7 linked regions of the Homo sapiens genome follow. The protein of the gene in region 5 purifies or fractionates together with the protein of the main gene of each other region. This does not show direct contact. Each region holds a gene or a part of one and is shown on either strand. Other genes may lie near its edges.

Region 1 (4,315 bases), on a different chromosome or scaffold from region 5:
GTCAGGAGTTCGAGACCAGCCTGACCAATATGGTGAGACCCGCCCCCCCGTCTCTACTAAAAATACAAAAATTAGCCAGGTGTGGTGGTGCACGCCTGTAGTCTCAGCTACTGGGGAGGCTGACATGGGAGGAATCCTGGAACCCAGAAGGTGGAGGTTGCAGTGAGCCAAGTTTATGCCATTGCATTCTAGCCTGGGTGACAGAGCACGAACCTATCTCAAAAAAAAAAAAAAAAAATTGTTGTGCCTTTGTGAATCGTAGTATCATCGGACCTACAGTGAGGTTTTTATTTCCATCATGCCAAAGCTTGCAGGACAAACTATTTAAAATAATTTTTTAGTTGGGTTTTTCCCTCTTTAATCTACTACCACCCCAGTCCAGAAAAATACATTTGTGCTTTGTAGAGCCTTGTACTTCTACAACACCTTTAAAAACAACAAACAAAAACCTCTTAAACCTATGGTAATTTCTTGTTTGTCCCTTAAAGTTGACCAATTTGAATAAGGAGATTCACCTTAGGCATCTTCCTATTACCCAAAACATGAATATTTTCAGATTATGAAAACACATAGAAGGGGACCTCTTAGAAAACCTTTATTTATTTATTTATTTAGAGATGGAATTTCGCTCTTGTTGCCCAGGCTGGAGTGCAATAGCACGATCTCAGCTCAACGCAACCTCCGCCTCCTGGGTTCAAGCAATTCTCCCGCCTCAGCCTTCCTGAGTAGCTGGGATTACAGGCATGCGCCAACACACCTGGCTAATTTTGTATTTTTAGTTGAGACAGGGTTTTTCCATGTTGGTCAGGCTGATCTCGAACTCCTGACCTCAGGTGATACGTCCACCTCGGCCTCCCAAAGTGCTGGGATTACAGGCATAAGCCACTGCGCCCGGCCAGAAAACCTTTAAAATGTTGTAATGTTATCCTTGTATACTTGTTGACTTGCTTTTCAAGGAACTTTGATGTTTAGAGAGTCATTCTACTTTGTATAATTCTAAAGTAATGTTTTAATGTAGTGACTGTTCTCAGTGTCTTTTTATTTTATTTATTTATTTTTTTTGAGACAGAGTCTCACTCTTTTGCCCATGCTAGAATGCAATGGCACAGTCTCGGCTCACTGCATCCTCCACTTCGCAGGTTCAAGCAATTCTCATGCCTCAGCCTTTCCAGTAGCTGGGATTACAGGCATGCGCCACCATGCCCAGCTAATTTTTGTTTTAGTAGAGACAGGGTCTCGCCATGTTGGCCAGGCTGGTCTCGAACTCCTGACCTCAGGTGATCCACCCGCCTTGGCCTCCTAAAGTTCTGGGATTACAGGCATGAGCCACCGCACCCAGCCTCTCAGTGTCTTTTTATATCTTTTATATAATTCACCCCTTTTTCATATTGAGGAGGAATTTTTGTGTTCTGAAAGTTTCCCGTGTAACATGAAATGATACTGACAGGCCATAAAGAATGAGCTTCTGAAGTATGAAAGGTCCTGGACAAAGCAGTGGCCCTGGGTCTGGGCCTGTATAGAGAGTGTTGCACATCACTGACCGTGGGTATCTCTCCTTCAGTTTGTCACTGTGCAGACCATTTCTGGAACTGGAGCCTTAAGGATCGGAGCCAGTTTTCTGGTGAGTCTGGAAGCTTCTTCAGGAAAGAATTATAAATTCCAGATGACAGGGCTTCCTGTTGTGTGTGTATTTGACTGTTGATGCAGAAGTAGATTTCTTCTTTCCGTGAAGTTTGCAGATGTCCTATTCTCATGAAAAAATGAAAGGACTTTGAAGAAATTACAGGAAAGATATATTAGTGATGATGATAAATTCAGTTCACTAGGAACTTACTATTTACTAGGGAGCTTTTGCATTTTAACTTGTTTAATCCCTATGAGAGAGGTACAATTAACCCCCTTTACAAGTGAAGAAAGCAAGACCCAGAAAGGTCCTTGGCTACATGGCCAGTATAACTGTCAGAGACTATTCCAACCCAGGCAGTCTTACTGCTGAGTCAATACTGCTTCTCAACCATAGAGAGAAACTGGGTTTCAGCAGAGAAAAATGTTCTCTCAATAAAACACATCAACATTTTTTTGCCTCTCCTTTGTTCATTTTTCTGTTTCCTTTCGTCCCATCTTTTAGCAAAGATTTTTTAAGTTCAGCCGAGATGTCTTTCTGCCCAAACCAACCTGGGGAAACCACACACCCATCTTCAGGGATGCTGGCATGCAGCTACAAGGTTATCGGTATTATGACCCCAAGACTTGCGGTTTTGACTTCACAGGCGCTGTGGAGGATATTTCAGTAAGTGTGGCTTTCAGGGTGAGAGAGGTGAATAAAACTCCTTGCTTGCGGACATTTGATGTCTCCCACCATGTCCCAATATCTGAGTTAAAATACTGGGGAAGAGCTGATTCCCAGGGTTCTGGTTACCTTTGTTACTTATCAAATGATGACGATCCTGTGGCATTTCAGATAAACCATTTCCTTTAAAGCTGCAAAGTCGTCTCTTGGCTGTTTTTCTCTTTAGAAAATACCAGAGCAGAGTGTTCTTCTTCTGCATGCCTGCGCCCACAATCCCACGGGAGTGGACCCGCGTCCGGAACAGTGGAAGGAAATAGCAACAGTGGTGAAGGTGAGGACGATGAACTCACTGGCGACAGTTCTGTGTTTAGTAACCAGCTTTGGAGGCTTAATTTGGCAATGTCTCAACAGAGAGTCTTAACCTCGAACCTGCGTGAAATGTCCACACAGGTGGATAAGCTGCCAGAAAAGGGCTCCCCATTTGCGTGATTAGCAGTTCTGGGATTGATGACGCATGAGTATTTGAAAGTAATTTTTTTTGGCTGGGCGCGGTGGCTCACGCCTGTAATCCCAGCACTTTGGGAGGTCGAGGCAGGTGGATCACCTGAGGTCAGTTCGAGACCAGCCTGGCCAACATGGTGAAACCCCGTCTCTACTAAAACTACAAAATTAGCTGGGCGTAGTGGCCCATGCCTGTAATCCTAGCTACTTGGGAGGCTGAGGCAGGAGAATCACTTGAACCCAGGAGGTGGAGATTGTGGTGAGCCGAGATTGTGCCACTGCACTCCAGCCTGGGCAACAAGAGCAAAACTCTGTCTCTAAAAAAGAAAAAAAGAAAATAATTTTTTTCCTCATCCTGGATGTAGGGAACTCTGATAAAACCTGTCCACTGGCCCCAGGATGTCTGCTGTTGATGCCTATATTCGCCCTGGTCAGTGGTTGCTTATTGATCTTTTTAAACACTTTTTCATGTCCTCTCCTTTGCAGCATTGCCATGATCACTCTCAAAGTGTAGCCAGCTGTCAGAGAAGACACTAGTCAAAATTCCTAGGGAGGAAAATGTTATTCCTGTTGTCTCATGTCCCTGTTTTCCCTTTTCACTCCTTTTCATTTCCCTTTCTTTTCTCTCTCTCTCTTTTTTTTTCTTTTGAGACAGAGTCTCACTCTGTCGCCTTAAGCCAGAACGCAGTGGCACAGTCACAGCTCACAGCAGCCTCTACCTCCAGGGCTCAAACAATCCTCCTACCTCAGCCCCTGAGTAGCTGGGACTACAGACATGTGTGCCACACCTGCCTGGCTAATTCTTCCTATTTTTCACAGAGACAGCATCTCACTTTGTTGCCCAGGCTGATCTCAAACTCCTGGGCTCAAGTGATCCTCCCACCTTGGCCTCCCAAAGTGCTGGGATTATAGACATGGGCCACCATGCCTGGCCAGTTTCCCTTTCTTTAACTTCTGTCAAATCTAAGCTGCAAACAGAATGAGACAGAAACAGCATTTGGAGAGCACTTTCAAGATAAAATGGTTCTAATGATGTTGTCTCGTGAGTCCTGGGTATAAGTTGAGTCTTCCAGGATTACGTTAGCCCCAGAAAAGGCTTATTGTGCTTATTGGGACCATGCCCACCTCACATAAACATCTTTCAGACTTTTATAAACATCTGGGGCCTCTTCAGAAAGACTGCTAAAGCTTCGATCTTTCGTTCCTTCTCAGAAAAGGAATCTCTTTGCGTTCTTTGACATGGCCTACCAAGGCTTTGCCAGTGGTGATGGTGATAAGGATGCCTGGGCTGTGCGCCACTTCATCGAACAGGGCATTAATGTTTGCCTCTGCCAATCATATGCCAAGAACATGGGCTTATATGGTAAGCTACAGCATCCAGCATGACACATGCTCTCATGCTGGGAGAGAATGCCACGAGGGCATAGAGCTTGTGGGTGTGTGTGTGTGTGTGTGTGTGTGTGTGTCCATCCATGTCCATGTCCCTCCCTACCCTAAGATGAAAGACCAGTATCGTAGATTTTA
Region 2 (4,315 bases), on a different chromosome or scaffold from region 5:
CACCATATAGCCTAGCTGTGTTTTAGGCCATCCCATCTAGGTCTGTGATGTTTGCCTAAGGAAATCACCCTAACAATGCATTTCTCAGAATGTATTCCCACCATTAAGCACTGTATGACTATAATTTAGCTCTAGCTTTTTCTTGGGAAGATTCTAGATTAATGAGCCAGATTCAGGTGCCAGGAGGAAACTAAAATGCCTTAGAGAAATAATCTAAGATGTTTCACTTATGCCAGTTACTTTGACAATTTGCACATAATAAACCCTTAATATCCATTGAGAGTATGGCTATGAATGTTTAAGATTCTCTCTAGGTAGGGACTCCCTCTGATACTGGGGTGGAAACAGAGGAGCAGTGGCAACCCTGGCCTCTTCAGAGACTAAGAGTAGGCTGTGTCTTTCATGAGAGAGAAGCCACATTAGCAAATACTATCCTTCGGCCCAGATTGGTGTGTTAATGTGCCTTTAAATCATCAGTCTCAGGCTGGGTGGCTCACGCCTGTAATCGCAGCACTTTGGGAGGCTGAGGGTGGCTGATAGCTCGAGTCCAAGAGTTTGAGACCAGCCTGGGCAGCATGGCGAAACCCTGTCTTTACTAAAAATACAAAAAATTAGCTGGGTGAGGTGGTGCCTGCCTGTAGCCCCAGGTACTTGGGAGGCTTAGGTGAGAGGATCACCTGAGCCCAGGAAGCTGAGGCTGCAGTGAGCTGTGATTGTGCCACTGCACTCCAGCCTGGGCAATGGTAGTGAGACCCTATCTCAAAAAAAAAGGAAAAAGAAAATCATCAGTCTCTCAAAGTAAACATGCATGCTATATAAATTAACTCAGTATGCTCTGTTTGGCTCTAAGGAGCTCCTGCTATTGAACTTTGTTTTTGACAGGTGGTATGCATTGGGTCAGTGGCGGAACTTGAAGAACTGTCAGGAGCAAAGATCTCAGATCTCCACAGAGAGAGGTCAGTTTCTAAATGTTCGATTCACTTCAGTTTTACGATTCTCCTATTAAGACCTGGTCTCTAGCAGATTACAGAGCCACACATGGAAGTGACTAGCTTGCTGAATTACTTTGCTGATGACTCATGTCATATTGCAGTATTGTGGCCTCTGTCCTTGTGAAATGTGAGGTGAATGGTGCATAACCTTTCAGATGGAGGATTCATGGTGCTCTCTGAAAGCCTTTGAGAATTGCTGATATTTCTGTTTGCAAATGTGTATAATATCTTGTCAGGGTTTTGTGTTTCCTATTAGCAATTAAACTGCAAGTTCTGTTATGCTTACAGTTAATAGAAATGACTACTTTTCTGTTTGTTAGTGTTGACCACCTGACCATTCCTTCACGCTGTGGGAAGGGATCCTTGCACCGCATCTCTGAAGTGTTTGACTGTTGGTTTGAGAGTGGCAGCATGCCCTATGCTCAGGTTCATTACCCGTTTGAAAACAAGAGGGAGTTTGAGGATGCTTTTCCTGCAGATTTCATTGCCGAGGGCATCGACCAAACCAGAGGATGGTATGCCTCCTTGTTCTTTCATCACGTGTTTTATTGATTTTATTTTATTTAGGGAGTATTTTACTAAGTCACTGCCATTTATCTACTGGGTGATGGAGAGATTGTGGCAAATAAGACAGGCTACATTCCTGCCCTCTCCCCTCCACCACCAAGCACGGACATTAAAGTGCCTTTTGAGTAGGACTCTCCCACTACAATAGGGCTGTAGTTTTACAATTTCAATGATCTCACTGGCATTTTGGAATATATGTGTTACACTGGATGTTAAAATGATAAAAAAAGTTATGTGTTCTTAGCTTACGTCAGATCATTTACTCAAATGTTTGAGTATTTGCATAAAAGACAGTAGTTTGGGTGCTAGAAATTTGAGGGATAGTTGGTAATGTGCTCAGATATTGAGGCTAGCCTTATAAATCAACATTCTAAAAAAATCCAGATTTTTAAAAAATATACATATGAGAGAGGATTTGGGCATTGATTTTTATCTGGTGCCTTATGTAAAACAGTTCCTTAATTGGAAGAAGGTGAATTACTTTCTTTCCATGGATTGGCTTTGCTGGCCCAGGCTTTATTTACTTTTTTTTTTTTTTTTGAGACAGAATCTTGCACTCTGCTGCCCAGGCTGGAGTGCAGGGGTGTGATCTCGGCTCACTGCACCCTTCGCCTCCTGGGTTCAAGCAATTCTTCTGCCTCACCCTCCTAAGTAGCTGGGTCTACAGGCATGCACCACCATGCCCAGCTAATTTTTGTAGTTTTAGTAGAGACTGGGTTTCACCATGTTGGCCAGGCTGGTCTCGAACTCCTGACCTCAAGTGACCCACCCGTCTCAGCCTCCCAAAGTGCTGGGATTACAGGCGTGAGCCATTGCGCCCAGCCCAGGTTTTAATTATACATTCACAGTAATGTTTCTGCAGGGGTGTGTTAAAGGAATTGTTGGTGTCATTTTCTCTCTTTGACAGCTTTGGGTAATCATTGAATTCAAGTCTTCATGTTCTGGAATGTGCTGTCTTCAGATTCCAGTCCTTTTTGTCTATAGGAACAGCTACCCAGCACAAATTCTGTTTTTAGAAAGGGGTAGATGCCTTACCAATGAGCTTGTTCCTTTGAGGAGTAGCAAAGTCTGTTAGCTGGTAACAGTCCTCATGTGGATCCCGTGTCCTTGGTGCCTGCCTCCTTCTCCATTCCTGAGGCCTGGGCTACCTCTCCTGGGCACCAGGGCTCCTCCCAACTCTCCTTTAGAAGTGGGAGGGATATCTGGATCAGTGTTTATGTTAACTATGGGGTCTGGTCTCCTCAGCTCATGTCCCTTGATGTTCTCAGAGTGCAGGACTAGGTAAGAGAGGCAGGAAAGCATCACCCCCAGGACAGTGGTCAGGGATATGAGTTCATTTGGGAAACAAGCTAGGTAGCACATAAATGAGGTACATAACATTTTACAGAATAAAAGCATTTTCTAGTCTGCCTTATCACTTTTGGGTGAGAGTGCATTTTGCATCTTTTGTCATCAAATTGTCTTTTCCATATGATCTTGTGCCAAATTCAAAACCCATCCTTCATCTTCAGCTAGGTGCTTCTGGGTGGTCCTGAGAGGCCACCCAGTGCTGCCATGTGGCTCTCCACACAGACTTCCTGGGAGCTCTGGTAACAGAGAAATGGTCAGTAAATCATTCCAGACGTTTATTTCAATGCTTCTTTCAAATCTTAGACAGTAATTTGATTGGTCTCCAGTAACCAGGATTAAGAATCATTGCTTTAAGTGATTCTCAAGAAGTGTGACTTATCAAAAATAGAAATTCAATGAATAAATACAGTTTCTTTCTTATGCTTGGACTTCATTTCTATTTTTATTGAACTGTTTGGGGTTTTTTTTCAGGTTTTATACCCTGCTGGTGCTGGCCACGGCCCTCTTTGGACAACCGCCTTTCAAGAACGTAATTGTGAATGGGCTTGTCCTGGCAAGGTAGGTCAACTTTGTTGTAGTGACGGGTGGAACTTTGTCTCCACTGTTTCTTAAGAAGGAGTGCGTGAGAGCGGTCAACTTTGTTGTAGTGACAGGTGGAGCTTTGTCTCCACTGTTTCTCAAGAAGGAGTGTGTGACAGCTAAGCCTGATGGAGGAGGAGGAAGGGGAGGACTTTCAGATTGTGCTACTGCTAGTAACATAATGCTACTAGTGATATTACTAGTAATAAAATAGCATTTACTAAACTTAGCACTTTATGAAATACTTTTGCTTATAGATCTTATTTAATCTGTACATCAGTCCTTTCATGTAGATTTTGTTGTCCTTTTTTTAACACACGAGGAAGCTGTGGGTTCTAGAGACCACAGGTGCCCAGGATCAAAGCTAGTGACAGCCACACTGGGCTTGACCGAGGTACTCTGCCACCAGATCCCATTCTTCCCCTCATCTGAAACTTCCTCCCAATGGGCATTATTTCCCACATTTTGCTATTATAAGGAAGTCTCATTTTTCCTTTACTTTATTACCTCTAGTCATTAAGAATAAAAATAAACATAAATGAAAATTTTAAAATGAAATATTTTAAAATAGAATTTGTGCTGAGTACCCACACAGAAATCCTACTTTATATGCTGTGTGAGGAGGAAGAGGATGTCACCTAACATTTTGTGCATCCTTATTTTTTGCCAGGCCCCACTGTGTGCATTTTCACATTTTAACTCATTTAATCCCCAGAACCATTTGAGATGGGTCCTATAATCCCTTTGTGACCTTTGAGGAATCTGAGGGACAGGAAAAAGTGACTTGCCAAAGGACACACAGCAAATGAGTGGTAAATGCAAATTTT
Region 3 (4,315 bases), on a different chromosome or scaffold from region 5:
TCAGTTCAACCTTTCATTTTAGAGATAATTTTGAAGGTCAGGTTGATTAATAGATTCCTCTGTTGTCACACAATGAGATTGTAGCCGTGTCATTAAAATTTAGGCTTCTGTTAGTTTGGGAACTTTTTCCTCTACCTTCTACAATGTTGATCTAGATTACATTGTAATTTATCAAGTCTTCAGTTGAAAAATATTCTTCAAGAACTATAAAATTCTAAGTTGAATTACATAGCTGGGCGTGTTGGCTCACAGCTGTAATCCCAGCACTTTGAGAGGCCAAGGCAGGCAGATCACCTGAGGTCAGGAGTTCAAGACCAGCCTGGCCAACATGGCGAAACCCTGTCTCTACTAAAAATACAAAAATTAGCCAGTCATGGTGGCGCACACCTGTAGTCCCAACTACTTGGAGGCTGAGGTGGGAGGATAGCTTGAACTCGGGAGGTGGAGGTTGCAGTGAGCCAAGATTGAGCCACTGCACTCCAGCCTTGGTGACAGAGCGAGAGTCCGTCTCCAGGGAAAAAAATAAAAGGTTGAATTACATAAAACATTGATGGGCTTTAGCTCTGGAGTTAAGTCACTGATCTGCACTGAGAATACTTTATGAAATTTTTACAAAAGTCCAGAATAACTTTTTGTTCTGTGAAAAATTATAACATTGATAACAGGCTATTTAAAGATTCACATAATTAGTGGTGAATATGAAAGGGAAGGACAAAAAAGACATGTTCCATTTGCGTCAAAAGGTTTTTCTTTGAAGTTTTGTTATAAATCTTTTTTTTTTTTTTTTGAGACGGAGGAGTCTCGCTCTGTCGCCCAGGCTGGAGTGCATTGGCGCCATCTTGGCTCACTGCAAGCTCCGCTTCCTGGGTTGACGCCATTCTCCTGCCTCGGCCTCCTGAGTAGCTGGGATTACAGGCGCCCGCCACCACGCCTGCCTAATTTTTGTATTTTTAGTAGAGACGGGGTTTCACTGTGTTAGCCAGGATGGTCTTGATCTCCTGACCTCGTGATCCACCCGCCTCGGCCTCCCAAAGTGCTGGGATTACAGGCGTGAGCCACTGCGCCTGGCCGTTTTGTTACAAATCTTAAAGATTATTTTACCCTTCTTTGAAAAATTGAAATGATCCAGTATGGCCCATGTGTAATCTACATTTTCAGAGTAACTCTATTCTTAGAATCTTGGGGCTCCATATTGGATCATAAGATAAAAGTCATGTTCTTCCCAAAGAATATAGAGAATATGATTATCCTTTTTATCAGTTCTTTAATCTCCTGAAAACTGTTTTACACCAATATGATGAAATACATTTCTCTCTGCCAAATTCATGTTATGTTTTGTGAAATGCATGTATTTATTTTATTGACTCCATCTGATCTCAGGAGGAAAGAAAACATTGTTTATAACCTATGGTAAAGTTAGTAGGAGCATTGAAAATAGAAAGGAGTTTGTTGTTTACTTTCTGTTTGGTTCTTTTCTCTTGATCCTCAGATAGGAGTTGTATACATTTTGTTGTAAACCCTTAGACATAGAGAGCCACCAACACAGCAAGCCTGGCTAGCTTAAAGCCTTCTAGTGGTAGGTTTCTTTGAGATTTACAGTGTAAAGGGTGTATACTTTTTCTTCACAGTGTAGAATGTTGCCTACCTTCGTTGAGATGTCCAGGCTGTTATAGACTATTATTTCTCTAGCTGTGCATTTAGATGTATAATCTGGCTCACCTACTCAACTCTGCTCTAGTCACACAGCTTCCTGCAAAAACCTCTCTTCACTTGCATCTCTGCTTGCATCTGTGGCCATTCCCTCATCTGGAATGCCATGGCCTCCTCTTTTCTTCCTGTGAGTGCTTTATCCTCAAAGCCTTTCCAGATGACTCTGACCTGTACTGCTTTCCCTCCTCAGAACTCCTGTAGCTTTTACACTCTGTGTGCTCTGATATTTCATCACTTGATGATACTTTATGTTCGATGTTGTATATTGGGTGTGTAATGTTTTTACTCACATTATATGGAAAGTTTTATTAAATAGTCTTTCATTTTACCTCTATATTTGTTATAAATATTATCATAGGCATTTGCAGAATTTATTCTGAGGTTAGCATTGTCTGTCAAAGAAAGGATCTGGTGTACATTTTAAGCAGGAAGAGGAACAGAGAAGTTATTTAGTAGGCCTTTTTTTTTTCCTTTGGAGTCTACATAGCTTAGCTTTGTAGAAAGAGAAAGGTGGGTGTATTAAGAGAAAACTCGGTGTGGTGACTTGTGCCAGTTGTCCCAGCTACTCTAGAGGCTGATGTTGGAGGATTGCTTCAGGCCAGGAGGCCAGCCTGCGCAACATAGCAAGACCCTGTCGCTAAAAAATTAAAAAAAAAAAAACTTATTTGTTGGAGAAATTAAGATTATTCAAACCATTGGAAATTGATAGTGCTTATTTATCAGAGTTGCCATATCTGCTTAAACAGGAGGCATTCAATGTCAAATGATAATGTTCTGCATTTTCAGGATCTTCCAGTTAGGTTCTTAGGTACATTTTTGGAATTTGTTGTTTTTATCATTATATTTCAGAAAAATAGAGATACATCAATATAAAAAAACAATATATAATAAAAATAGTGTTTATTTTCCTGTTTTCAAATTAGATTCGTGTGTACTTATATATGTGTGGACTTTTTTTTTTTTTTTTTTTTTTAAGTCAAGGCCTGGCCGACAACACCGTTATTGCTAAAGTAAATAATGTTGTGTGGGACCTGGACCGCCCTCTGGAAGAAGATTGTACCTTGGAGCTTCTCAAGTTTGAGGATGAGGAAGCTCAGGCAGTAAGTTGCTGATTAGTATTCATTGAATTTTAGGATGCAGATTCACATTTGAAGTCTTTTCCAGCTCAGTCCTGCTGCGATTGGGTGGCTAACATTTATTGTTGTCTCACTGTCATATTTGAAATCTTCATTTTGTCCTTCATTTAGGGAACATAATAAAAGTGCTTGCCTTAGAAAATAAAGGGGTGAAGCTGAATAAGTCTTTTCATTACTAGACACTTCAATAGGGAAAATGTTTTGGGAATTGTATTAAACATTGATTAAGCAAGTAAAAATTGTTTTCTAAACTGTGAACACTATTTTATTTTAATTTTTTTTTTTTTTAATGATGGAGTCTTGCTTTGTCACTCAGACTGTAGTGCAGTGGTGCGCTCTTGCCTCAGTACAACCTCCACCTCCCAGGTTCAAGCTATTCTCCTGCCTCAGCCTCCCAAGTAGCTGGGATTATAGGAGCGCACTACCACACTTGGCTAATTTTTGTATTTTTAGTAGAGATGGGGTTTCACCATGTTGGCCAGGCTGGTCTTGAACTCCTGACCTCAAGTGATCTGCCCACCTCGGCCCCCCAAAGTGCTGGGATTATAGGTGTGAGCCACTGTGCCTGGCCTCTAAGCTATGAACACTCTAGCAAGATATGTACATTTGACAAATAAATTTGAACCTTACTTCAAAGCACTGCCTTTATTGGATAATTTCTGTATTTTTTTCTCATCTTAAGATGCAAATCTGCTGGATAACACTATAAAAGTCAACCTGCATGTGATGACAAGATTTTCTTTTTAATTCTCCATGGCTGTGTATCATATAAGGGGAGACAAAGTATTTTGTTTTAGTGATGATTGTTCACTTATGTATGTGGATTAGTGGTTTTCAAATGTATTTTGGAGCCCTCAAGTTTCTTACGAGAATTTTTTAATGTCACTTTGGTACCTTAATACTAAATCTTGAAAACATTGCTTTGGGTGTATTCTGACTCATCCCAGTGATTACTTTAAAACCAAGTACTGCCATTTGATTTCAGTGTACAGATGTTTGTCCTCGTGTTTTGTCATTGTGTTGTGGGGTCGGGTTGTACCACCTTTGTTTTGGGCCAGTAACAACATGTAATTTCTAAGTGATGTTCCATAGCCAGCTAAAGGCCAGATCACAGTGTCTGAGACATGGTGCTGTGGGCACATTGACTCAAAAGAACCTGGGCCATTGCAATCAATGAGTTAGTCACATTGTGAGTAGCAGTTGTTTTCAGAGAACAAAGTCTATGTCATTTAATTAGTGATGCCAAGTTTAGTTTAATTTGTTTGAAAACAGCTAAACCAGATGATTTCCAAAATAAAAATACACTAGTAATTGGAAGCCTTTTGAATTACTTTGGCTATGGATAGAAACAGTAGTTTATAGATTTAGAAATTTAGGATTTTATATATTGGGTTTACTTGTAGTAAATATTATCATCTGTCTCTTTCAGACAACCACATTAATTGGCAACTTGTATGCCAAGACTCAGA
Region 4 (4,315 bases), on a different chromosome or scaffold from region 5:
ATATATAAATGTGTATGTGTATATATATAAAATTCATATTTTGCCAACACTGCATATTATCCCTCTGTTAAAATTTCAACTAATAGGTAAATATTAGTATCTCATTGCTTTAAATTGCAAATTTAAAGATTAATGAGGTTGAGGGTATTTTTATATAGTAATAAACATTTGAGTTTCTTTTTCTGAAACCTGCTTTTTAAAAGAATCTTTAGCTCAGGTTTCTATTTTTCTAAATTATTTATACATTTCTTTAAAATCTTGAATATTATGTTTTAAATATTTATTTATATTTAAGTTTTGTGAACTTAGCTGTATCAATATTTTTTTCATTTTTGAAATCACTTCAGAATTTTATGTCCATCTTAGGAAAACCTTCATTACCCCAAATTGTAAAATATATTCTTCATTTTTCTATTATCTTTACATTTAAAAATATTGATATCTATCTTTAATTTGTCTCAAATTTATTCATGTATTTGGTGTGTTGGGGATCCATATTTATTTTGTACCAAATAGGTTGTTATTCTTTGAGTCGAATAGTCTGTTTTGGATGATTTGAAATGCCCCATTGCTCATATAGGAAGTTCTTTTAGGTGCAGGAGCCTGTTTCTGGGTTTTCTAATCTACTCCTTTGACCTATTTGTTTTTCTTTTTCTTCTTCCTTTCCTTTCTTCTCTTTTTTTTTTTTTTTTTTTTTTTTGACAGGGTCTCATTCTGCTTCTGTTGTCCAGGCTGGCATGCAGTAGTGTGATCACAACTCACTGCAGCCTTGGCCTCCTGGGCCAAAGTGATCCTCCTGCCCCAGCCTCCTGAGTAGCTGAGACGACAGATGTGTGCTACCACATCTGGCTGATTTTTAAATTTTTGTAGAGACAGGGTCTCCCTATGTTGCCCAGGCTGGTCTTAAACTCCTGGGTTCAAGCAGTCCTCCTGCCTCAGCTTCCCAAAGGGATCACAGGTATGAACGATCGCACCCAGCCCTATCTTCTTTACCAACATCATACAAATTTAATTATTGTTACTCTATAAGACACCACATCTATCAAGACAAATCTTCCCTCCTGTTTTTTTTTTTCTTTACAACTTTTAATTTTTATAGAGACCAGGTCTCTCTCATGTTTCCCAGGTTGTTCGCAACTCCAGGTCCCAAGTGATTCTCTTACCTGGACCTCCCAAAGTGCTGGGACCACAGGTGTGAGACACCACACACCCCTCCTATTTTGTTTTTCCAAAATTGTCTTGAGTGTTCTATCCCATAAATGTTAACATCATCTTATTAATTAGCTTGAATAATTATATCAGAATTTTTATTTGAATTACATTGAATTTACAGTTTAGGGGAAACTGACATAATATTTATCTTCATTTATATAGGCTTTCTTTTCTAAAAATAAATTTTATTGTGCATATTTAAGGTGTACAATATTATGTTATGGGTTATGAATAGTTAGTAAAATGGTTACTATAGTGAGGCAAATTAACATATTTATTATCTCACACAGTTACACATTTTTGTTTGTTTGTTTTTGTGGCAAGAACAGCCAAAATTTACTCTTGCAACAGGAATCCTAAATACGATACAATTTCATTACCGATAGTTCTTATGTTGTACATTAGATCTCTAGGCTTGTTCATCTTACATATCTGCTACTTCATATTCTCTAACCTACATGTCCCCATTTTCACCCCCTTTCCTGCCTCTCATCACCAGTGTATCTACATATTTGACCTTTTTAAATGACAAAAGAGGATTCCACCTATAAGTGAGATCATGCAATATGTTTCTTTCTTATTTAACTTGGTATAATGTCCTTCCAATTCATCAATGCTATGACAAATAGCAGAATCTCCTTTTTTTAAGGCTCACTAATATTCTGTTGTGTATGTGTGCATATTTCACAATTTCTTTATTCCATTGGTGTCCATCCATTGATGGACACTTAAGTTGTTTCCACCTCTTGGCTATTGTGAATTGTGAATATTGTGGCAATGAACATACGAGTGCAGAGATCTTTACGAAGTGGTAATTCCATTTATTTTGTGTATGCCCAGAAGAAGGATTCCTGTGTCATGTGGTATTTCTATTTTTAATTCCTTTAGAAACCTGCATATTATTTTCTGTAATGGCTGTAACAATCTACATTCCCACCAACAGTGTATAAAGGTTCTTTTTTCTCCATACCCTGGCCAACATTTGCCATCTTTTGACTTTTTGAGAATAGCCATCTGTTTGTGAGTGGTATCTCATAATAGTTTGATTTGCATTTCCCTGATGATTAATGGTGTTGAATACCTTTTCATATACCTTTTGGCCATTTTTATTTCTTCTTTGGAAAAATATCTATTCAGGTCCTTTGCTCATTGTTTAATTGGATATGTGGATCTTCCTTTATGTCTGCCAATGGTTTTTCTTCATAGAATTCTTACACATTTCTTGTTAAATATATTATTTGATATTTTACAACTTTTGTTAGAATTGTGAACAGGTTCTTTTTTTCGCATTGGATTTTCAAACTGCTTATTGATGATCAATAAGAAAGAGACTGTTTCATTTCATTCTTGTATCTAATCACCACCCTGATCTTTTTTATTCATTCCAATGGTTGTTCAGTCATTTATCTTACATTTTCCTGGGAAATTATTATACCATCTATTTTAAAAGAAAGACTGAGGATGTGCTGCCTTTTTTTCAAATATATAATTCTCTTATTTTACTTTTAAATGTGTTTGATAATGTATTCTAGAATAATGTTGAAGATTGCCAGTGATAATAGGATCTATGTCCAACTTATCTCTTAATTAGATATCTGCTTAATAATTATGAGGCTTGCTATATATTTCTTATGGAAACATTTTATCAGTTTATAGACTTTTTCTTATTTTTCTTGATATTCAACAACAGGAATGGTTGTTAAATGTCTTCCACGGCTTTTTCAGCACATATCATTGTGTTTATAAAGCTTTTCTCCTATTTGTTAATGAATTATATTAATCTTTTTCCTAATTTTGAATTTCAAACTATTTTTGGATAACCAGTATAAACACCACCTAGCCATGACTTGTTAAAATTTTTTATGTTTTTTAAAAAAAACACATTTCAACTGATTTTATTTAACCTTCTCTCTTCACACATGCACATCGTTTTTTCTTTGATTTTAAAAAGTTTCTGTGCTATTTATAGAATGAATTAGGTAATGTTCCATATTTTTCTATGTATTTGGGAATTTTATACAATGATCCCCCAAAAACTGTCAGTTTTTGTTTTATTTCTTGTTTTCTGTTTCACTAATTTATGCATTTATTCCTTCTGTTGAATTATTTTAGATTTTTCTGAGACTCTTGACTTGGAAGTTTTATTTATTTCTGATCTTTCTCACTTTTTAATATCACACTTAAGTCTATTTATATATTTTCTTCTCAATAACATTTAGCTTTCAACTCCCAAAGGCGTGTGTGTGTGTGTGTGTGTGTGCATGTGTGTGAGTGTGTGTGTGTGTGTGTTTTCATTGCTATTTCTAACTGGTTTGAAAATTCAGTTTAATTTTTTTATCCCAAGAATTATTTAGAAGTGCTTTGTTTTTTCTTAAGTGGATAGTTTTTATGATTAATTTGTACTTCTATTCACTCCAATCTAAGAATATGGTCTATATGATGTACTTTTAAAAATTTATTGAGCTTTACTTTGTATCTTCATACATAGTTAATTTTACTAATGTTTATGCAGCTACTTGAATAGAATCTGTATTCTGTTTATTGGGTCCAAAGTTTTATTTATTTATAATTTACTTACAATTATATGAATATGAAATCATCATCATATATATTATCTAAACTTTCTGCACCAGAGATTTGCAAACTTGTTCTGTAAAGAGGCAGATAGTAAGTTTGTTAGGCTTTTGTGGACTATAAAGTCTTTGTAGCAACTACCCAACTGTTCAGAAAAGCAGCTATGGACAGTAGATAAATGAATGGACATGGCCAGATTTGATCCAAGGACCTTAGTTTGTTGATGCCTGCTCTATATTCTAGTTTATTTTTATTTTTTGACAAAAACTGACAGGAGATATAATACTTTTTATAATTAGATGACCAGGGAGAAATAGAGAAAAAAGGCAGAGAGAACTTGTTTAGATTTTTGGTCTAGTACATATTAATATATTTTTAAAATACCCCCATCTCTGATTTTAGCTTCATATCCAGGGGATTCATTATTACAGTTGCATTTCCAGTACTTTATGTGTGGTTTAACATTATTTGAGTTTTGATTTGTTCATATGACTTTTTTGTTTTCCCTCTATAGTGAAGCCCAAGAGCC
Region 5 (4,315 bases):
ACAGTGACTCTTATCTGACAAGATAGATAAGAGCAGCCCCTGTCCTGCTTAGAGGGGACCTGCTATTTACTAAGTGTTTGCAGTATTTCAAGAACTTTGTATACACAATCACTTTTAATCTTTACAACAATCTTATGAAATAGCTGTTAAGTCATTTTTTAAAATGAGAAACCGTCAGGTTGAGTAACTTGTCCCAGGCCATACAGCTGGTAAGTCAGTGGCAGAGTAGAGATTTGAACCTGTAGATATCTGCCTCCAAAGCCTAGGTTCTGAGTCATACCATTTTATTTTTAAAAAATCAAATGGTACATAAGAAGTATATAATGACTAGGGACATTGAGACAGAAATATTTCCAAGTGGAGAAAACATGGGAGCCAGAGGCTGGAGACTTGGGTTTAGTCTCCATCAGCTGTCATTCCAACCGCTTGTTCCTATGGCAAGACCTTTGCATTTGCCAGATCCCTTGCCTGGAACCCCCTTCAGACCTTTTTTTGACTGGCTCCTTCCCTTGCCTTTTTTCAGGTCTCATGTCATTGTTACCTTTTCAGAGAGGCCTTCCCAGTCCACCCTAATGTAAAGTAGCTCTCCACCCGCAACAGTCATCCTTTGTCAGTTCATCCTGTTTATATTCCTTAGCGTGCTTACAACTTGGATGTTAACTCATTTTCTTGTTTGTATAGGTTGGATTCCTCCATGAGAGCAGGAGCTTGTCTAATTTATTATATCCTTAGCCTTGGTACACCATAAGCCCTCAGAGAATATATATCAAATGAACATTTATTTCCCTTATCTAGAAAAATGGACTGGGAATTACCAGTACTTATGGTCATAATTTATTGTCTGCTTCCTCCAGAGTATTATTAGCTTCATGAGGACAGACCACTTCTGTCTTGTTTAATGCTGTCCCCAACACCTAGCATAGTGCCAGCCATAAAGGAGACCCTCCATGAATGTATGCATTGAAGAATCAATGTTTCTATTGATTGAATGATACTCCTTCATCATCATTGAATTCTGTTTTGCAGGTAAACAATTATGACTCAATTGCTGTGTACCAAAAAGACTCACTAATCCAGTGGTTCTCAATCCTGGCTTCACATTGGTCAATACTGGAGACTGATGCTAATGTCCCGCCCACAGAGATTCTCATTTTATTGTTCTGGGCTGAGGCTTGGGCATCAGGATTTTAAAAGCTTCCCAGAGGATTCTTATGTGTAGCCAGGTTGAGAACCAATGGTTTACGTTTTTATAGTAGAACTCATTCCTTGCTTTGGTCCTTATAGGCTTGAAGAAGCCATGGTAAGAGAGAGCAGGGGTATAATTCATGGGTATTGTATGATTCCTGACAGTTTAAGAGGTACTTCACAGCTGTTATCACATCTGATAATAACAAGTTAAGGGATCTACTCTCTGGTTTAAATATTGCCTTTATGTTGATGATTCCTAAAAATCTCCATCTGCCCTCACTTCTAATTGTGCATACCAGTATCTAACCTCCTCTTAGACCAAATTGTTTGCTGATACCTCACATGCAGCAGCTCCAGTGCTGTGCTTGGTTCCTGCAGGGGTGGGTCCCCTTCTGAAACTAGTTGGCATGTTACAGCATCGCACCACCTTCTGTGGCTGTAGGCTCCTTCCTTCCAGCCAGATGCCTCAAGCTCTGATGTCTCATCACTCTCTCCTTTCTCTCCCTTTACCCAGCTGCTGCCCCAGGTCAGAATTCTTCATTGTTCCTCCATGGGTTTCACCATCAGCCTCAGTAACCTCCCTGCCTCCTTTTTCTCTCCCCTCCAGAACAACCAGAGTCACCTACTTGGGTACAGACTGGGTTCGGTCCTTCCCTTCCAGATCTTCCCTAGCACTTCCAGTCAAGTCCAGACACCTTGGCAGGGCCTTCAAGACTCCATGGTCTGATGCTAACCTAAGTTGCTTCTGGGAAATGCTTCTCGGCTTCACTCGAGCCACAGCACACAACTGGGAATGTCCTGAGCCTGTGGGGTCACTTCCATGCCTTTATGCATCTGCCATCCTCCCGGGAGGCTTTTCCCCACATGTTAACTTTTCAAAATGCTTTGTCTCTATTGTTGCCCTCTCTGAGCCTTCTCAAGTCCTTTTGTCAAAATTAATTGTTCCTTTCAGCATAAGGGCCTCTATGAATTATTCTCTCTTAGAGTTCATAGTCAGGTATTGGGCCTTAGGCATCTTTGTTTCTCCAGGTGTCTTGTATGAAATAGGCACTTAAATGTTTGTTGAATTGAAGGTAAGAAGGGGAAGTATTAACATCCCTTGTTATTGGAGAATAAATTGAGGTGTTGGTAACTTGAAGGACATTTTAGAACACTTTAGGACAATCTTGAAGTCTAAGTAGATCTTGGGGAAGCAGAGAGGAAACAGGCTGCCAAAGGCAGTGGTGCTAGGGTGACTTTTGCCCATCATGCTATTGGAAATAGATTTGATCAACAGTGTGGCCCTATGCACATGAAGAAGTTCTGTAGGGTGCTGCAGGCCTCCCCACGAGGTTCTTTGAAATGACCCAGTCCTGTCTGTGAGAAGTCACAACTGTGGTGTGTATGTGTGTGTGTAGGGTGGAAGAATCCTAGTCGGTTTACGTCACTTGTGTTCAGGCGGTGGGGCTAGGGAGTTTGGTTTCCTTTCTAATAAGGATGGTTAGCATTGAGCAAGTGCTGACAGTGTGCCAGGTACTGGCCAGAGCTGGGAGGGGCTGCACAGGACTCTGTCCTATTGTTCTGCACCCACTGTGAGCAGACCTTCTGTGTGGTCCCAGTTGGACGTGGAGCAGGCAGCCCCCAGAATTACTGGATTTGACAATGAACCGAGGACAGAGTTAAGATTGTACACCTTCAGTAAAGATGCTCCTTCCATCTCACCCCCAGGACTTCTGTACTTTCCCCTATCTCATGTGGAAGCAGTGGAACGTGTGTGTTTTGTTGTACACACACATACAAACACATGCGTTTTCTTTACACACTCTAATGTCATTGTCTCGGCTCCACTTCTATCAGCTTGTGGAGGGTTGCATTCTTCTTGGTTGTCTTCAAACCACGTCCCAAGTCCGCAGTTCCTTTGTAGAACTGACTCTGCAGTAGTGCTATTAAGTGAGGATTTTCATGCAAAGCTCTTCCCTGAGTAATGCAGTGGAAAGGGTGGTTTGTGAGGAAAGAGGGCTGCTGGGTTGGAGAACAGACTAAGGGGCAGCTCTCCTCACCAGCCCGTGGGAAGGGCTGTATGTTGGGCTTGGCCACCCTGCAGTGCTGTCCAGACCAGAGTCTGATATCATGACTAGTATAAGACAGATCCTGGAGCCTCTATCTCCAGGGGCCAGCCTTTTTTTTTTTTTTTTTTTTTTTTTGTCTCCTATTTCTTTTCCTCTGTGTGTTGGCCTTAAAAATGTATTATATAATTTGTCTTAGGCCAAAACCATAGTTTGCTTTGGAGCTGGAGGCACTGACTCTGCTCAGGGTAAATGCTTCTACTCATGGTCCTAGATAGGAGAGAGTGTCGGGGCTACTTGCTGCACACAGCCTGACGTGCCATTCTCCTTTCCCTTTCCATGCTTCCTTTGCCCCCCACCATTTTTTTTCTTTTCTTCTTCCCTTCTCCTGTCTCTTCTTCCCCGACTGTACAGGCACCCATGGGCATTACCTAACCCTGCTGGTGGCAGGCAGATCCTGACCCCTCTGTGGGGGCCATGTACATGCAGCCCCCACCCCAGTGGCTTTCCTCTGCAGCTGAGCCTGCTGGTGTATGGCAGAATGGCCCACCTCCTGACCCTGACCCTAGCCCGTGTTCACTAATTAGAGTGCATTGATTTATTTATAAACACTGGGTCTTTGCCAGAAAAATTCTGTCCCATCCTGTGTAGCACAACTGAGGACTGGTCTGGCACTGAAGACAATTCTAGCAGCTAAAGAATTTCAATAATCCCTGCCTGTTCTTATCATTTACAGGGCAGTGAAAATAATGTGAGCTAATTATCTAACAGTTTATAATATTTTCTTTCGTACATTTATTACTGCAACTATGAGTCCTCTCTTAATCATCTTTTTTTGCTGGTTGTGCATGGCTTATATGCCTCTAACAACTCTGAAAGTGTTTGCCCTCTTGGTTTTGCTGCCAACCCAGGACAATTCCTATGTAGGATCATTTCAGGAGGAAGATAAGTAAACTTCCCATTCTTATTAGACTCCACTAGTGATGCCATTAAATGTTGATCTGTTAATGGTCTGTGAATATTTCATTTTATGTGGCATATTTCCATTTCCTTTTGTAAGTAGGAAGTCAGTTCTTGTGACT
Region 6 (4,315 bases), on a different chromosome or scaffold from region 5:
GCACACCGCTCTCTCCCTCACTTCCTCACCATGGCGTGGGGCCCGGCCTCGCCTGTGTGGCCCAGCTCCAGGCAATGGAGGCCAGCATCCCGGTAACGCTTCAGCACCTGGGCCAGGTCTGGCTCCTGCACCTCCAGCACGAGGCCTGGCTCCTCAGCGAACAGCACAGACAGGACTGGGAGAGCAATGTGGGGAGTCAGGGGGATGCAAGAAGGGCCAAGGGAGTTGGGGCGGGATCAGGGAAATGCAGGAAGGGCCAGGGTGAGGGTCAGAGGGATGCAGCCAGAGAGTAGGGTAGGGATCAGGGAGGATGAGGGCTAGGACGGCAGGACTGAGGATGTTTCATCATGGACATCTCAGGGATGGGAAGTCTCAGAGGGGTGCAGTCAGGAACATGGTGGGTGTCAGCCAGTTCCATCCAGTTCAGCTGTCAGAGAGACAGCACAGAAAAGCTAGTCAGGGAAGACTCAGGGAAAGGGGACTGGAGGGCACTCCACTCTTTAATATATTGGAAATGGGGTCTGCAGGGTAGAGAAGGCAGCCCGGGCCTGAGACTAGACCCCAGGTTCCTTACCATCAACCCTGGGGACAGGCACATCCACCTGTAGCCCGCAATTTCCAGCAAAGGCCATCTCCAGCAGGCATGTGACGAGGCCTCCGTCACTGACATCGTGGCCTGAGCAGAGGAGGCGGTCTGGAGGAAGGAGAAGAAAGCTCAGCAACCTCGGGACCCAAACCTGACAGCCCCACCCCACCTTCCGGAGTCAGTCCATCAAGAGTGTGTGTCAGAATGTCAGGGGATCTGGGGTACATCGTCCATTGGAGTCCCTTTTGCCCCACTGCTCAGATGGTGAACGCCTGCTGCACGCCTGGCACCCTGTGCGCTATCTCCCCAGGGGTCTTCACTCACCTTTCAGCAGCCCCTGAGTGATGCTGAAGGCCCGCACCAAGTTCTCAGGAAGGTCCAGGTCTGGAGGGTGTTCCCCAAGCTGGGAGAAGCACTGGGCCAGAGCTGTGCCCCCGAGCCGGTGCTGCCCAGGGCTCAGAGCCACATAGAGCAGATGGCCTGGGGAGACGGGGAGGGGTGAGGGGAGGGGAACAGCTCAGGAGGACCCATCCCTGAGGGGCTCACAGCACTGCTATTCCCAGCATGTGGTGAGACACCTAGACAATCAGTCCCAGAAAACACCACAGCCCAGTGTTGAGATGGGGGCCCAGCACTCACAAAGCAGGAGCCAAACAAAGATCACACAAGCAAAGATCACAAAGGATGGGGCCATGTCCATACCTCTCCCTTCAGGATGCTTGAGGTCTGGGGTCACAGTGGCTGTGATGTCTGGGCAGACGGCATAGGCTGAGATGACCAGTGACCCTGTAGAGCAAGGAGGAGTCCAAAGGAATGAGTTGCCAACCCAGCTCCATAGTTCCTCCTCCCCTCCCTGGGGCTCCCACACCTCACCAGGAGCCCGCACGGTCTCAGTGCCAACCCGAGCAGCCATGCTGAGGGAGTCCTTGCCACCATCCACTGCCACACCCAGGGCTGCCATCACTGCCACCATAGCCTCACAGGCATCCGCCAAAGCTGCGCCCTCCCCTGGGAGCTTGGCTGCCCACATCCAGTTCCCGCTACACTTCACATCCTGGGGGTGGCAGAGGCACAGCATTAGAGGGGAAGAGAAATGTGGAGAGGCCAGGGGTGCAGGCGGACTGGGAGGTTGCAACATGAAATGAAGGGCTACAGATGGATGTGGAAGGGTCCTGAAGCCCGGGGGCTCCAGGATAGAAGCTGTGGGAGAACTCACCCGGAGGTCAGTGACCAGAGCAAACACCAGGTTGGTGAGGGCTTCGGCCACGGCCAGCCGGGCGGCGACTTTTGGGTCCAGCAGGCTCTTGACTGGCTGTTCTCCCAAGGCTGTGGCAGCCCCTATGAGCTCCTCATGGCTCAGTGCCACAACCGCTACATCTGCCAGAGGAGTTTGCAGGGGCCCCACGCACTGCTGCTGGGCCACCAGGCCTCCCACAGAGCGGTCCACCTGTGGAACCAGGTGGGGTTAGCAAGAGAGCAAGGGACAGGGACAGCCTGAGCTCCCGCACATGCCCCCAAGGCACTCAGGGCAGTGGGAGGCCTGTCTTTCCCCCAATGCAGACAACAGCTCTACTTAGAAGGTGGGTAGCAGGGAGACCAGGCCATCAGGGTGGCTGCCCTGCCCCTGCTGCTTCCTGCAGGGCCAGGCAAAAACCCCCACAGCACTTTCTAAGGGTGGGAGGGCAGAAGAGGCTGAGCGGAGGAAGGAGGCAGGGGGCAGAGGAAGGGTGCAGGGAGGACCTTATTGGTGAGGTAGCGCTTGCTGGCCACGGCGGGCAGCCTCAGAACCCTCTCCAGAGCCTGGTGCACGCTCAGCCCTGGGGGCAAGGCCAGAGGCTGCAGCATGGGGGGCTTCCTCTGCAGGAAGAACTCCTGCAACACAGACAGCGACAGGCAGTGTGAACACCTGGGGCGGGCTGGGCACACAGGCGACAAAGTGCACGTAGGGTAAAGGGTGGTGTGGAGAGGACCACAGGAAAAACCCATCCCCTCAACCCCACATACCTTCCGAGGCATCTTGCCCAGCACCCATTCGAGCTCCAGGTCCACAGGGGTTGGCAGGGGTGTCGGGGGGGCATCCCCCTGGCCATTTCTTCTGACAGGACACTCCCGATCGTCCACCAGCACTATCTATAGACCACAGGGACCCCACCCAGAGGGGATGAGACTATGAACACCAGCAAGGAATGTTCCTAGAAATCAGGGCACAAATGTGCTTTCCACTCCTTGTTTGGTTTCCATATTGAGTCCCTGCCCCTCCTTGGATCCAACATTCCCCACAGCTTGTTTGCCACTACCTCCCATCTTCCTCTCGTCTCTCTCCCTTGACAGCTCTCCCTCTAGCCCATACCCAGGTGGCTCATGTCTGCCCCAGTGTTTGCTCCCAACTCCCTGGGCCAACTCACTCTCCGGTCTCCAGTGATGGTGCCCACGAAGCAAGCCGGGCAACGTTCACGGGCACTGACATGAGTCAGGAAGTCCCGGTTGGGGGACCTCAGCAGAAGAGCATTTGATTCCTGGTACTCAGCCCCCCAGATTTCCAGGGCATTCAGGGTTGGGTCCCCAAGCTGCACAGCCACGGCGGGGAGGAAAGAGAAGGGCCAGTGGGCACTCCCACGTCTCATGTTGTTGCAAGAGAGATGGGTGGAAGCGGGCTGGGGCTGGCAGGGGTGGGAAAATGTCACACTTCAGGGGACGAGACCCACCTGGAAGCGGCTGGTGTAAATGATGGCTCCAGCTGGGTCACTCAGCTCTTTTAGGACATTGCCTGGTGAGAGGGTTGCAAGGAGAAGCAGTGACCTAGTGGTGGTCAGGCAACAAAGGGCAGTCCCTGGCCTCCAAAGGGGCCTGTAATTTGGTGTGTTCCTGTGTCAACTGCTGCCGCACCCTTACCACCAATCATCCCACGGCAGCAGGCTTCCACCCTTCCAACCCTGAACCTGTCTAGAATGTACAGAGCATGGAGAATGGGACCCAGAGCTGGGTGGTTGGTTGGAGATTCCTGATACCTCTCCCTAAACGAAACCTGGCAGGATACCAGGCAGGCCCAGTCTCTTGTTCCAACTCCTTTCCTCACCATTGCCACCAGCGCCCTGATCATGAAGGCTGCAGATGGGGTTTCCCTTGGGGGCCTCCACACAAGCCCTGATCACACGGTTCATCTTCTGTTCCATCTCCGGGTCTCCTCGCTGCACAGCCCCAAAGTCCAGGTCACTGGTGTTATCTCCCTGCACCTGGGGGCATATATGGCATAGCTCAGCTCAGCGAGACTGGAAGCTCCTATACGCTCCCCTATGCCTGGGGCCCGGTTATATCAAGGATTCTGCACCTTTAGCAATTCCCACTCACCTGCACAGATGAAGCAGCTCCACCTCCAACTCCAATCCTGTAGACGGGACCTCCAACCTTTACAACTTCCATGCCTGTAAGAAGGGAAGGCAGAATCAGAACACTGGGGAAGCCACGAGAAGAGGCCTCGAAAGCAAGGCAGCGTGAACACAGAGGAAGCTGATGTTAGGGAGAAGCCTGACCAGCTTTTTTTTTTTTGAGATGGAGTCTCGCTCTGTTGTCCAGGCTGAAGTACAGTGGTGTGATCTCAGCTCACTGCAACCTCCGTCTCCTGGGTTCAAGCGATATTCCTGCCTCAGCCTCCTGAGTAGCTGGGACTACAGGCGCCTGCTATCGTGCCCGGCTAATTTTTGTATTTTTTCAGTAGAGACAGGGTTTCAC
Region 7 (4,315 bases), on a different chromosome or scaffold from region 5:
ACTAGACTCTGTCTAAAAAAAACACACAAAAAACACACAAAAAAACATATAAGCTGAACCTCCCCTGTGGGGTGGAGTCAGTTTGACTCACCTCAGAGTTGTTTGAAGAGAGAGGTTCCCAAACAGTTTTACCATAACCTTAGTTCACTGAATGTTTTGTGGTAGAAACACTGACTAGTAAGTTCAGTAACAATGCATGGCTCAGATTGTGGAATATTTCTGATTTAAATGTAATCTGTAGTACTTCACACTTCAGATTTTTGAACCTTTTAACCTACAATACTGGGCTTCATTTCTGTTATGCCCTAATCTAGTCATGCTGAATATCCATACTGTATAATGGTAGATGCAAACCATGTTTACTAAATTAGAACTACATATGAATTACAGTTTACTTCAAGTGTTTTGTTTTGGTAATATAGCTTTGCCACCAAGCTTTTACAGTTTTCCTTGAATGTACAAAGACTTTTTATTCTAATAACCAGATTACAGTTATACTATTTCTAAAGCTCAGCTCTTATTACATCAAGTTTCAGTGATGTGTTGAAGTAGGGGAACTTTATATGGCATTTCAAAACATTTTCATAATACTGGAATTTTATTTATTGTAAAATATTTTTGTCTTTAATAAAATAATTTTGAATGAAGTCATAATTTTGCTTTTATCTGGTATTTGGATGTTTACATGAAAAAGGGAACATAAGCTGAATAAAGGTAATCCCAAAAGAACTTCTCTGTCACATTTTCCCAGTTACTCATTCATGCTCAAGGCATTGCTGTCCTGAGCCTACTTAGGTCTCAGCTGACCAAGCTGAATCTTTGATTCACTTATTTGGGGCTATTTATTTAAGACCCACTTTGTCCCAGCTCCAAAGATACAACAGTATGCAAGAAAGACAGCGCCCAGGGTGGGCGTGGTGGCTCATGCCTATAATCCCAGCACTTCAGGAGGCCGAGGTGGGCAGGTTGCTTGAGCCCAGTAGTTTGAGACCAACCTGGCAATGTAGTGAGGCACCAGGTCTGTAGAAAGTTTAAAAATCAGGCCAGGCGCGGTGGCTCATGCGTGTATTCCCAGCTCTTTGGGAGGCCGAGGCAGGCGGATCACGGGGTCAGGAGATCGAGACCATTCTGGCTAACACGGTGAAACCCCGTCTCTACTAAAAATACAAAAATAAAATTAGCCAGGCGTGGCGGCGGGTGCCTGTAGTCCCAACTGCTTGGGAGACTGAGGCAGGAGAATGGCGCGAACCCGGGAGGCGGAGCTTGCAGTGAGCAGAGATCGCGCCACTACACTCCAGCCTGGGCGACAGAGCAAGACTCCGTCTCAAAAAAAAAACAAAAAAAAAAAAAAAAGAAAAGAAAGTTTAAAAATTAGCCAGGTGTGGTGGCATGTGCCTGTGGTCCCAGCTACTTGGGAGGCTGAGGTGGGAGGATAGCTTGAGGCCAGGAGGTCAAGGCTGCAGTGAGCCACAATTGTACCACTGGCACTCCAGCCTGGAGGACAGAGGGAGACCCTCTCTCAAATACAAACAAACAAATAAATGAAGTAAGAAAGCACCAGCCCTTGGGATATTTGTTTTGATCCTTTTCCCCAGTAAAAATTTGTTAGAGTGGGAAGTTAGAAAACAGTGTGGTAGATTGATGGCTACTATGGTATTAACTGATAAGACTTAACGTATTACTTTGAGAAGGATATTTTCTATTTTAAAAGTAATTCTGGAGTTAACTCTGTCTTTTTTTTTTTTTTTTTTTTTTTTTTTGAGACAGTTTCACTCTTGTTGCCCAGGCTGGGGTGCGATGGCGTGACCTCAGCTCACTGCCATCAATGTCTGCCTCCTGGGTTCAAAGGATTCTCCTGCCTCAGCCTCCCGAGTAGCTGGAATTACAGGTGCCTGCCACCACGCCCGGCTAATTTTTTTGTATCTTTAGTAGAGATGAGGTTTCACCATTTTGGTCAGGCTGGTCTCGAACTCCTGACCTCAGGTGAGCCACTGCACCCAGCCAAGTTAACTCTGTCTTAACCAAAGAAATCAATTTGCACAGTACAATATTGATTTAAATGACAAGTTAGTACAAGAGATTTTGGAGGGGCCAGGCGTAGCGGCTCACACCTGTAATCCCAGCACTTTGGGAGGCCAAGGCGGGTGGATCACTTGAGGTCAGGAGTTAAGAGACCAGCCTGGCCAACATGGTGAAACCCCATCTCTTCTAAAAATACAAAAATTAGCTGGGCTTGATGGTGCCTGCCTGTAATCCCAGCTACTTGAGAGGCTGAGGCAGGAGAATGGCTTGAACCTGGGAGGTGGAGGTTGCAGTGAGCTGAGATTGCGCCATTGCACTTCAGCCTGGGCAACAAGAAAAAGACTCCGTATCAAAAAAAAAAAAAAAAGATTTTGGAGGGGGTCCACCTTTTTCAGTACCCTTTAGTTTAGAACATCACAGCTATTTATTTGTACATGGGACAGATTCTCCCTGTGGATAGAATAGAATAATTCTAGTCTCATTTTTCAGATTCAGGAAGGGCCCATTGCATCTCCTAAAAATCAAAAAAGTCTGGCCACTAGTTTTTTTCCTTTTCAGATTGTGAGACTAACAGATTTATAGAGGCAGTCTGTGCTCTGAATTGTTCAGCTTACAGATTGAAGTCTATCAACCCTTTATAGTATCAGGTTATTTGTTTTGTATAAATTATTTTGCTTTTGTTGATTAGCTCTATCAAAGAATAAAAAACCTCCCAAGATTTCTCAATCTTACCGCCCTTCTTTATGCTTTCTCTGTACAATGGAAAAGTAGACCAAAAGTATTTGTCATGAAAATTTTTTATCATTTGCAGTTTGTGGCATGATATGGCTTTTCTGTTTCACTGTTGGCAGTTTTATGCATGTCCTGTAGGATAACTTGATCGTTTTGTTACATATTTATGTGTGTATATATACATCCTGTGTGTGTATATATATATTTATGTAATTTAAAAAATAAAAAGCATGCTGCTTGGCTTGGCTAGCTAATGTGTAATTGTACCTGGTAAACAATTTTTTTCTTTGAAATTCTGATCATAGAGGGATTGAGCTCTCTTTGCTCTGATGAGCCATCTTCAGAAATTATGACTTCTTCCTTTCTTTCATCTTCTGAAATACATAACACTGGCCTTACAATACTACATGGAGAAAAAAGCCATGTGTTAGGGAGCCAGCCTATTTTAGCCAAAGAAGGAAAAGACCACTTGGATCTTCTAGATATGAAAAAGATGGAAAAGCCTCAGGGGACCAGCAACAACGTATCAGACTCTTCAGTTTCTCTTGCAGCAGGAGTTCATTGTGACCGTCCTTCTATTCCAGCCAGTTTCCCAGAGCATCCTGCTTTTCTCTCAAAGAAAATTGGTCAAGTGGAAGAGCAAATAGATAAAGAGACCAAGAACCCAAATGGGGTATCAAGTAGGGAGGCTAAAACTGCATTGGATGCTGATGACAGATTCACTTTGCTGACAGCCCAGAAACCACCTACTGAGTACTCTAAGGTAGAAGGCATTTATACATATTCTTTGTCTCCATCCAAAGTTTCAGGAGATGATGTTATTGAAAAGGATTCCCCTGAATCACCATTTGAAGTAATTATTGACAAAGCAGCATTTGACAAAGAATTTAAAGACTCATATAAGGAGAGCACAGATGATTTTGGTAGCTGGTCTGTGCACACTGATAAAGAATCATCCGAAGACATTTCAGAGACTAATGACAAGCTTTTTCCACTGAGAAATAAAGAGGCAGGACGTTACCCAATGTCTGCATTGCTCAGTAGGCAGTTTTCACACACAAATGCAGCACTGGAAGAGGTGTCCAGATGCGTGAATGATATGCATAACTTTACTAACGAAATACTGACTTGGGATCTGGTTCCCCAAGTGAAACAACAGACCGATAAATCTTCTGACTGCATCACAAAAACTACAGGACTTGACATGAGTGAATATAATTCAGAAATTCCAGTTGTAAATCTTAAAACTAGCACTCATCAGAAAACTCCTGTATGTTCTATTGATGGGAGCACTCCCATCACTAAATCAACAGGTGATTGGGCAGAAGCATCTCTCCAGCAAGAAAATGCTATTACTGGAAAACCTGTACCTGACTCTTTGAATTCCACAAAAGAATTCAGTATCAAAGGTGTGCAAGGCAATATGCAGAAACAGGATGACACACTTGCAGAATTACCTGGATCTCCACCTGAGAAATGTGACTCTTTGGGTTCTGGAGTGGCCACAGTGAAAGTGGTTTTACCTGATGACCACCTGAAAGATGAAATGGACTGGCAGAGC

The links.
Region 1: the proteins of BCAR3 (region 5) and GOT2 purify together in Homo sapiens (co-immunoprecipitation; one large-scale study listed by IntAct). This does not show direct contact.
Region 2: the proteins of BCAR3 (region 5) and IARS1 purify together in Homo sapiens (affinity purification with mass spectrometry, with the first as the bait; one large-scale study listed by BioGRID). This does not show direct contact.
Region 3: the proteins of BCAR3 (region 5) and TARS1 purify together in Homo sapiens (affinity purification with mass spectrometry; one large-scale study listed by BioGRID and IntAct). This does not show direct contact.
Region 4: the proteins of BCAR3 (region 5) and LPXN purify together in Homo sapiens (co-immunoprecipitation; one large-scale study listed by IntAct). This does not show direct contact.
Region 6: the proteins of BCAR3 (region 5) and PFAS purify together in Homo sapiens (co-immunoprecipitation; one large-scale study listed by IntAct). This does not show direct contact.
Region 7: the proteins of BCAR3 (region 5) and RTN3 purify together in Homo sapiens (co-immunoprecipitation; one large-scale study listed by IntAct). This does not show direct contact.

The regions. Positions count from the first base shown.
Region 1 is NC_000016.10:58,716,502-58,720,816, reverse strand, and holds part of GOT2 (aspartate aminotransferase, mitochondrial isoform 1 precursor), read left to right. Parts: intron 1-1,561; coding exon 1,562-1,621; intron 1,622-2,128; coding exon 2,129-2,290; intron 2,291-2,516; coding exon 2,517-2,621; intron 2,622-4,003; coding exon 4,004-4,154; intron 4,155-4,315. UniProt on the Homo sapiens protein: Catalyzes the irreversible transamination of the L-tryptophan metabolite L-kynurenine to form kynurenic acid (KA). As a member of the malate-aspartate shuttle, it has a key role in the intracellular NAD(H) redox balance.
Region 2 is NC_000009.12:92,262,121-92,266,435, reverse strand, and holds part of IARS1 (isoleucine--tRNA ligase, cytoplasmic), read left to right. Parts: intron 1-882; coding exon 883-956; intron 957-1,312; coding exon 1,313-1,507; intron 1,508-3,380; coding exon 3,381-3,467; intron 3,468-4,315. UniProt on the Homo sapiens protein: Catalyzes the specific attachment of an amino acid to its cognate tRNA in a 2 step reaction: the amino acid (AA) is first activated by ATP to form AA-AMP and then transferred to the acceptor end of the tRNA.
Region 3 is NC_000005.10:33,450,603-33,454,917, forward strand, and holds part of TARS1 (threonine--tRNA ligase 1, cytoplasmic), read left to right. Parts: intron 1-1,738; coding exon of another isoform or gene 1,739-1,837; intron 1,838-2,686; coding exon 2,687-2,810; intron 2,811-4,315. UniProt on the Homo sapiens protein: Catalyzes the attachment of threonine to tRNA(Thr) in a two-step reaction: threonine is first activated by ATP to form Thr-AMP and then transferred to the acceptor end of tRNA(Thr).
Region 4 is NC_000011.10:58,554,926-58,559,240, reverse strand, and holds part of LPXN (leupaxin), read left to right. Parts: intron 1-4,300; coding exon 4,301-4,315. UniProt on the Homo sapiens protein: Transcriptional coactivator for androgen receptor (AR) and serum response factor (SRF). Contributes to the regulation of cell adhesion, spreading and cell migration and acts as a negative regulator in integrin-mediated cell adhesion events.
Region 5 is NC_000001.11:93,674,982-93,679,296, reverse strand, and holds part of BCAR3 (breast cancer anti-estrogen resistance protein 3), read left to right. Parts: intron 1-4,315. UniProt on the Homo sapiens protein: Acts as an adapter protein downstream of several growth factor receptors to promote cell proliferation, migration, and redistribution of actin fibers.
Region 6 is NC_000017.11:8,262,613-8,266,927, reverse strand, and holds part of PFAS (phosphoribosylformylglycinamidine synthase), read right to left. Parts: intron 4,009-4,315; coding exon 3,935-4,008; intron 3,820-3,934; coding exon 3,663-3,819; intron 3,354-3,662; coding exon 3,292-3,353; intron 3,154-3,291; coding exon 2,992-3,153; intron 2,717-2,991; coding exon 2,591-2,716; intron 2,459-2,590; coding exon 2,327-2,458; intron 2,034-2,326; coding exon 1,803-2,033; intron 1,641-1,802; coding exon 1,460-1,640; intron 1,373-1,459; coding exon 1,289-1,372; intron 1,067-1,288; coding exon 911-1,066; intron 695-910; coding exon 575-694; intron 428-574; coding exon of another isoform or gene 405-427; exon of another isoform or gene 176-404; coding exon 30-175; coding exon of another isoform or gene 18-29; exon of another isoform or gene 1-17. UniProt on the Homo sapiens protein: Phosphoribosylformylglycinamidine synthase involved in the purines biosynthetic pathway. Catalyzes the ATP-dependent conversion of formylglycinamide ribonucleotide (FGAR) and glutamine to yield formylglycinamidine ribonucleotide (FGAM) and glutamate.
Region 7 is NC_000011.10:63,715,643-63,719,957, forward strand, and holds part of RTN3 (reticulon-3), read left to right. Parts: intron 1-3,059; coding exon 3,060-4,315. UniProt on the Homo sapiens protein: May be involved in membrane trafficking in the early secretory pathway. Inhibits BACE1 activity and amyloid precursor protein processing. May induce caspase-8 cascade and apoptosis.